Homo sapiens: one gene and its partner. The protein of the gene in region 2 purifies or fractionates together with the protein of the main gene of each other region. This does not show direct contact. Each region holds a gene or a part of one and is shown on either strand. Other genes may lie near its edges.

Evidence for each region. Proteins that work in one complex are often made in the same cells at the same time.
Region 1: the proteins of ACTR2 (region 2) and ARPC1A purify together in Homo sapiens (affinity purification with mass spectrometry; 11 studies listed by BioGRID and IntAct, with this or other methods). This does not show direct contact.

What each region holds. Positions count from the first base shown.
Region 1 is NC_000007.14:99,328,803-99,332,556, reverse strand, and holds part of ARPC1A (actin-related protein 2/3 complex subunit 1A), read right to left. Parts: intron 1-3,754. UniProt on the Homo sapiens protein: Probably functions as a component of the Arp2/3 complex which is involved in regulation of actin polymerization and together with an activating nucleation-promoting factor (NPF) mediates the formation of branched actin networks.
Region 2 is NC_000002.12:65,244,736-65,248,489, reverse strand, and holds part of ACTR2 (actin-related protein 2), read right to left. Parts: intron 1,967-3,754; coding exon 1,751-1,966; intron 1-1,750. UniProt on the Homo sapiens protein: ATP-binding component of the Arp2/3 complex, a multiprotein complex that mediates actin polymerization upon stimulation by nucleation-promoting factor (NPF).

The sequences.
Region 1 (3,754 bases), on a different chromosome or scaffold from region 2:
ACAACTAATGTGGAATTTATTCTGTTCAGGGTCGTCAATGGACTCTTAAACCATGGGTACAGGATATTCCTAGTCTCAAATTATCATCCCACAGATTGCTTATTAACTACAAAGAGAAAAAGATGCCTTTACGTTGAAGAAATCTGGCAATCACCACGTAATCACCATGTTATAAATAGTGGATCAATCTAACTGGATGGGCCTCCTGATGGCAGTCCACATGAAGTACACATCGTCACTTATAAATAGTGACTTAACGTACCATCCAAACCAGAACACTTCTGAGAGCAAAAATAAATAATAATTATGCCAACACAACAGGTCACAGGGCTATCCTGGAGAAACCTGGGAATATGGTCAACCTACCAATGAAGTCTCTATGCCAAACATATTTACTCTAAATCCAATCAAGATTCAGATCTAATTTTCAGTTTACAAGAAATAAAGGATAAAGGAACTAGTCAAGCAACACAAGGAGGAAATAAACAGTTAAAGCCAGGGTGTGTGCCATTCTATAGAAGAACTGGCCTGGACTATTCCAAAAAGGCAATATGGAGGCAGGATGAGAACTGTTCTAGAGAGCTATGAAAACCAAATTTGATAAGTGAAAGTTGATTATAATATAATTTCTTTTTTTTGAGACAGAGTCTCACTCTGTTGCCCAGACTGGAGTACAGTGGCACCATCTCAGCTCACTGCAACCTCCACTTCCTGGACTCAGGTGATCCTCCTGCCTCAGCCTCCTGAGTAGCTGGGATTACAAGTGTGCACCACCAGGCCCAGCTAATTTTTGTATTTTTAGTAGAGATGGACTTTCACCATGTTGGCCAGGCTGGTCTTGAACACCTGGCCTCAAGTGACCCGCCCTCCTCAGCCTCCCAAAGTGCTGAGATTACAGGTGTGAGCCACTGTGCCTGGCCCATAATCCACATTTTAAAAAATGGGCAGAAAAGATGTATTTTGTATAACAGGGAAAATTACAATTTAAACTAGATATTACATATGGAATTATTTTCATTTTCTTAGGTGTGATAACGGTATTGCCATTAGATAGGAGAATGTCCTAGCTCTTAGGAGACAAAGATAATGATGAAGTGTTCAGGGATGAAGTATCATGATGTCTTCTGTAACTTCTTTTCTTTTTTTGGGTGGGGGGCAGGGGAGATAGGGTCTTGCTCTCTCACCCAGGTTTGGAGGGCAGTGGTGCAATCTATGCTCACTGCAGCCTCCGTCTTCTGGCCTCAAGTGATCCTCCCACCTCAGCCTCCTGAGTAGCTGTGGCTACAAGCATGCACCACCAAGCCCAGGTAATTTTTGTAGAGATGGGGTTTCACCATGTTGCCCAGGCTGCTCTGACTGGGCTCAAGTGATCCACCTGCCTCAGCCTCCCAAAGTGCTGGGATTACAGGCATGAGTCACCATGCCCAGCCACTGTAACTTATTTTCAATAGTTCAGGACAGAAAATATATAGAATGTGAATGTGGCAAAATGCTAACTGGTGAATCTAGGCAAAGAGTATGTAGGCGTTTGTGATAATACTTTTTAAACTTTTAATTGTAACTAAATGAAAAGCAGGAATCTGCAAAACATTAAATTAAAAATTCTCTATTTTATAGGTACCCAAATCTAGATACACTTGAAGAAGCAACCATTAACTGAAATGGGAACATTTTTCAAAAAGCAGCCAGCCTTCCTCTACCCCCAACTTTATCATTTCCAGGAGGCACCCTCACAATAAACTCAAGTTTCAACACACGTAAGTATGTGTCATGTTAACCTTGGGTGGAGGCTGAAATGTGAGATATGAATTCTGATGCAAGCAGGAAATGAATGGAAGGGCCACTAGAAGGTTGTAAAGTGAACAATGAAAGTTCAGCTGACAAAGCAGAAATCAGTCTCAGAAAGCAGAAGCAGCACCTCTGCTAATTGTAAAGGAACCCAGGCCAGGCATGGTGGCTCAAGCCTGTAATCCCAGCACTTTGGGAGGCCGAGGTGGGCGGATCACCTGAGGTCGGGAGTTCGAGACCAGCCTGGCCAACATGGCGAAACCCTATCTCTACTAAAAATACAAAAATCAGACGGGCATGGTGGCAGGCACCTGTAATTCCAGCTACTCAGGAGGCTGAGGCACAAGAATCTCTTGAACATGGGAGGCGGAGGTTGCAGTGAGCCAAGATGGTGCCACTGCACTGCAGCCTAGGTGACAGAGTGAGACTCTGTATCAAAACAAAACAAACAAACAAACAAAAAGGGGGGGGGAACCCAAAGGTAAGTGCAACTTTAAATAAAAAACATCTGATACCTTGAACTGGCAGAGAAATGCTAGCATTTCATATTCTATTCTAAGAGTGAAGATAGTTAAGTCATTACTTTTTTCTTTTATACAGTCGAGAAAGCAAACTACAACTAACAAAGAAAAAGCTTAGGAATTGGCAATTTAAAAAAATTTTAAATGCATTCAAATGAGAATGTTTAATTTGTTTTTTTTTTTTACAAGAACTTCCAGATGCTCACTGCATGCTTCTCTCTTTATCTCTGATATCAGATGCTCACTCCAAATTGTTCCATCACAACAGATTTTAGTAACAGCTACTCAAAATAACATGCTGTTATAACTCCTTAATTAAAAGCGCTTTAGTTCAAAAGCCACATTTGATAAGCTTATTTGTTAACTAAAAATAAAATCGGTCTGCAAATCAGAAATTTGATGTGAATATCTACGTGCCATAAAAGTACATGGTTCATGTCCAGTTGAAAAGTACAGCTGCAGACAAAAGGCTTTCTCATGTTCAACTCAGTGTTTTATAAGCAATGTAGCAAAGACTTCAAAAGAGGTGGCCATTTACACAACAGTGTAATTACTTCTAAAATTGCATTTCTAATTTTGCCATATCATTCAAGTTCCATATTTGGACATACACTTAAGACCTGTACTTCTTTTATAATCAGGTGGCTATTTTAAGTCTGCAGGCCAAGACAACACTCATGTTTGTCAAATTTAGAATGCACCTAGCAAACACCACTTGCATTCATGAAACCCAGTGAATGCAGAAGAAATTCCTAATAGCTTGAATTATGTACCAAGAAAGGGTACCTTCTGTCATAGGGTGATAATTATAATTTCTAAACTATGGTTAATGTTTAAGTGAAATCTGAAAAGCTTTGTCTTAATAGAGCTAGAGAGGGAGAAAAGGGGACAAATAAAAATGCCAGGAACTCCTCATCCCTTTTCTTTATTTTCTTTTTTTTTTTTTTGAGACGGAGTCTCGCTCTGTCGCCCAGGCTGGAGTACAGTGGCACGATCTCGGCTCACTGCAAACTCTGCCTCCCGGGTTCACGCCATTCTCCTGCCTCAGCCTCCCGAGTAGCTGGGACTACAGGGGCCCGCCACCACACCCGGCCAATTTTTTTGTATTTTTAGTAGAGATGGGGTTTCACCGTGTTAGCCAGGATGGTCTCGATATCCTGACCTCGTGATCCGCCTGCCTCGGCCTCCCAAAGTGCTGGGATTACAGGCGTGAGCCACCGCGCCCTGCCCCTCATCCCTTTTCTTTTCCTCCCTCCCTCCCCCCTCATCCCTTTTCTCTCTCTCTGAGTTTTTTTCTCAGACAAGGTCTTGCTCTGTCACCCAGGCTGGACTGCAGTGGTGTGATCTCAGTTCACTGCAACCTCGGCTTCCCAGGGTCAAGCCATCCTCCCACTTTAGCCTCCTGAGTAGCTGGGACCACAGGCATGCATCACTATGCCCTGCTA
Region 2 (3,754 bases):
CAAGAGAAATCTAAATCTGAGCATCTCCTTTTCCTGTAACAGCCCCATATTTCACCCACAGTAAAAGCCCAATTCCCTTTTTTTCTTTTTGAGACTGAGTCTCACCCTGTCGCCCAGGCTGGAATGCAGTGGTGTAATCTCGGCTCACTGCAGCATCTGCCTCCTGGGTTCAAGCGATTCTCCTGCCCCAGCCTCCCAAGTAGCTGGGATTACAGGCACGCACCACTATGCCCAGTTAATTTTTGTATTTTTAGTAGAGATGGCGTTTCACTATGTTGGTCAGGCTGGTCTCGAACTCTTGACCTCGTGATCCGCCCACCTCGGCCTCCCAGAAGTGCTGGGATTACAGGCCTGAACCACCACTTCCAGCCGCCCAATTCCTAATTAGAGCCTACAAGGCACCAATATTACTTACTCGACCTCATCTTCTGTTGCTCTCTCCTCAACCACACTGGCTTCCTTGCTTATTCTTTAATATACCAAGCTTGTTCCTAACTTAAGACCTTTACACTGGCTACTCCCTTTATCTGGAATACCATTCTCCTATATACCCTGGCTAACTCACTTACCCTGTCTGTTTAAACATCACCTTCTCACAACCTATGTACAATTACAACCTCCCACTCCCCGTTAACCTGATTTATTTTGCCTTTAGCATCTACAGCTGATCCATGAATAACAACAAGTTTGAACCACACAGGTCCACTTATACACGATTTTTGTCAATAAATCTTTCCTGCCTCCCCTTGCACCTCTTCTGTCTCTGCCACCCGAGACAGCAAGACCAACCCCTCCTCTTCTTCGTCGGTGTGAAGACAATGACGATGAAGATCTTTATGATGATCTACATCCACTTAAGGTATAGTAAATGTATTTTCTCTTATGATTTTTTATTTTTTTTTGAGACGGAGTCTCGCTCTGTCGCCCAGGCTGGAGTGCAGTGGCACGATCTCCACTCACTGCAAGCTCTGCCTCAAGGGTTCACGTCATTCTCCTGCCTCAGCCTCCTGAGTAGCTGGGACTACAGGCACCCGCCACCACGCCCGGCTAATTTTTTGTATTTTTAGTAGAGACGGAGTTTCACTGTGTTAGCCAGGATGGTCTCGATCTCCTGACCTTGTGATCTGCCCGCCTCCGCCTCCCAAAGTGCTGAGATTACAGGCGTGAGCCACCGCGCCCGGCCATGATTTTCTTAACAGTATTTCCTCTAGCTTACTTTATTGTTAAGAATATAGTATATAATACATATTATGTTATCAGTAAGGCTTCTGGTCAACAGTAGGCTATTAGAAGTTAAGTATTTTGGGTGGTAGTTAAGTTTGCACGTGAGTAGGGAGGGTTGGTGCCCCTAACCCCTGCATTGCTCATGGGTCAACTGGATCACTCACCTTCTAACAAACCATTTAATTAACTCTGTAACTGCTTATTGTATTAGCCTTTTCAGTCTCCTTCTGCTGGCTCCTCCATAAAAACTTAATTAACTTAATTAACTCACTAAATTAAAAACTTAATTTTTTTGGTCTGTTTTTCCCTGTTAGAATATATACACTCCATGGCAGTAGGATTTTTTGTTTACTGATCTATCCTACTTTCCTACTTAGAATAATGACTAGCATATAGTAGATACTTAATAAGATCTGAAGGAAAACAATTATTTTTATTCTCTTTATCCATAGCAACAGTAAGAAAATTTTTGATTTAACATAATATCACAGAAATACACATATGCATATCCTGCATAAAAACTCACCTCTACAATCTTCTCTCTGTTTTTGGTTGGGTTCATAGGAGGTTCTGTGAGTAAGATTTTACAATTTCTGGTATCTATATTAAGTTTCTCTGGTCCAAATGTGTAGTCCCACAGGTGTTTCATGTCATCCCAATTTCGTACTATGCCATTTTCCATAGGGTAGTTAACTTCTAACATTGATCGTAATTCACTTGCCTCATCACCAACCATAAGATCCTAGAAAATTATGTCAAAGCTGTAGATCAAAGTTTTGCATAATATTTAAGAAAACTTGGGAATAATTAATTTTAATATTTCTGACACTTGCAAAATAAATCTTTTTATTCCACAAGTTAGAAAATCTTTTCTATCAAGAACAATGTCTTAGAAAGTTTAATCATGGATAATACATTTTTACATACAATGTGGTTTAAATCAATAAATTGACCTTACCTTTAACACAAATGTTTCCAAAAGAAGAGCATTAGCACAAATAAACCCCACATTTTCATATTTTGGAGGGTTTTGTATGAGGTTTCATCTGTTTCTTTTGCTCAATTGTTCAAAAAATAAGGCCTGTGATATGTGAAATAGCACATCAGGGGGAAAAAAACTTGTAGAAAAATGCTCAATGCATGCAGCACATTTCTTTGCACTAAATATCAAAATGATAAATGTAAGTACTATAAAGCATAATGAAAGAAGCAAAAAATAAAATGATTCTTTATTACTCTATAATAATGCATACATACACCAACTAATAAATAGCACAAACTTCTATCTACATATGCCTGAATAAGAATTTAAACTGTTTCTACATATGCCTCACCAAGGTGAATGAGAATTTGTAGAGTTATAAAAAATTAAGATATAGGCAAATAACCCATCCTTTAAAATTGTCTCCTGAGCAACATTTTCAATCTTAAAGTATACTGGAAAACTACACCATCACACATGAAGCATAATACTCACAAGTCTTGTCTCCAATGAGAGCATACTTAAGATGACCCACATTTGAAAGTCACATTTTCTATATATAATAAGTAAGGATGTCCTAGCATTTAGACTTATTTTTAGAGAACAGCTAGTCAAGAGGTTAAATAATACTAATTTCTACATATGTTGATAAATTCAATTAAAAAAACTAGTATCAGAAGTAGATATTTGCTACAATACGTTAAGTTTTAATTATGGAGAGACAAAAAAAAGCAGCAGCAAAATTAACACGAGATTATTTTTTTGAGACTGAGTCTCGCTCTACTGCCCAGGCTAGAGCGCAGTGGCATGATCTCAGCTCACTACAACCTCTGCCTCCCAGGTTCAAGCGATTCTCCTGCCTCAGCCTCCTGAGTAGCTGGGATTACAGGCACCTGCCACCACGCCTGGCTAATTTTTGTATTTTTAGTAGAGATGGGGTTTCACCATGTTGGCCAAGCTGGTCTCAAACTCCTGACCTCAAGTAATTCACCCATCTCGGCCTCCCAAAGTGTTGGGATTACAGGCATGAGCCACCACACCTGGCCAACATGAGATGTTTTAAAACAAAGGCTTAAAAATATATGAGTTTTAAATTAAAAAAAAAAGAAAAAGAAAATATCAGAGATGAAACCAAGGTGAGGACTCTAACAAAAAACCAAACAGATCTCTGGAAAATCCACTAAAAGCATCAAAAAGTATAACAAAGTTAAAAACAGATGCTAGAAATGCTCAGTAAAAATTTGTTGCAATTTCTTATGAAGTTCATTTACCATAACTTACTAACTTATTACTCAAATATCTGAAATATTAAATGTTTACACTCTTTTTTTTTTTTTTTTTTGAGATGGGGTCTCACTCTGTCACCCAAGCTGGAGTGCAGTGGTGCCATTATTGCTTACCACAGCCTCAACCTCCCCAGGCTCAGGTGATCCTCCCACCTTAGCCTCCCAAGTAGCTGGGACTACAGGCTACATGCCCAGCTAATTCTTGTATTTTTAGTAGAGACAGGGTTTCACCATGTTGCCCAGGCTGGTCTTGAACTCCTGG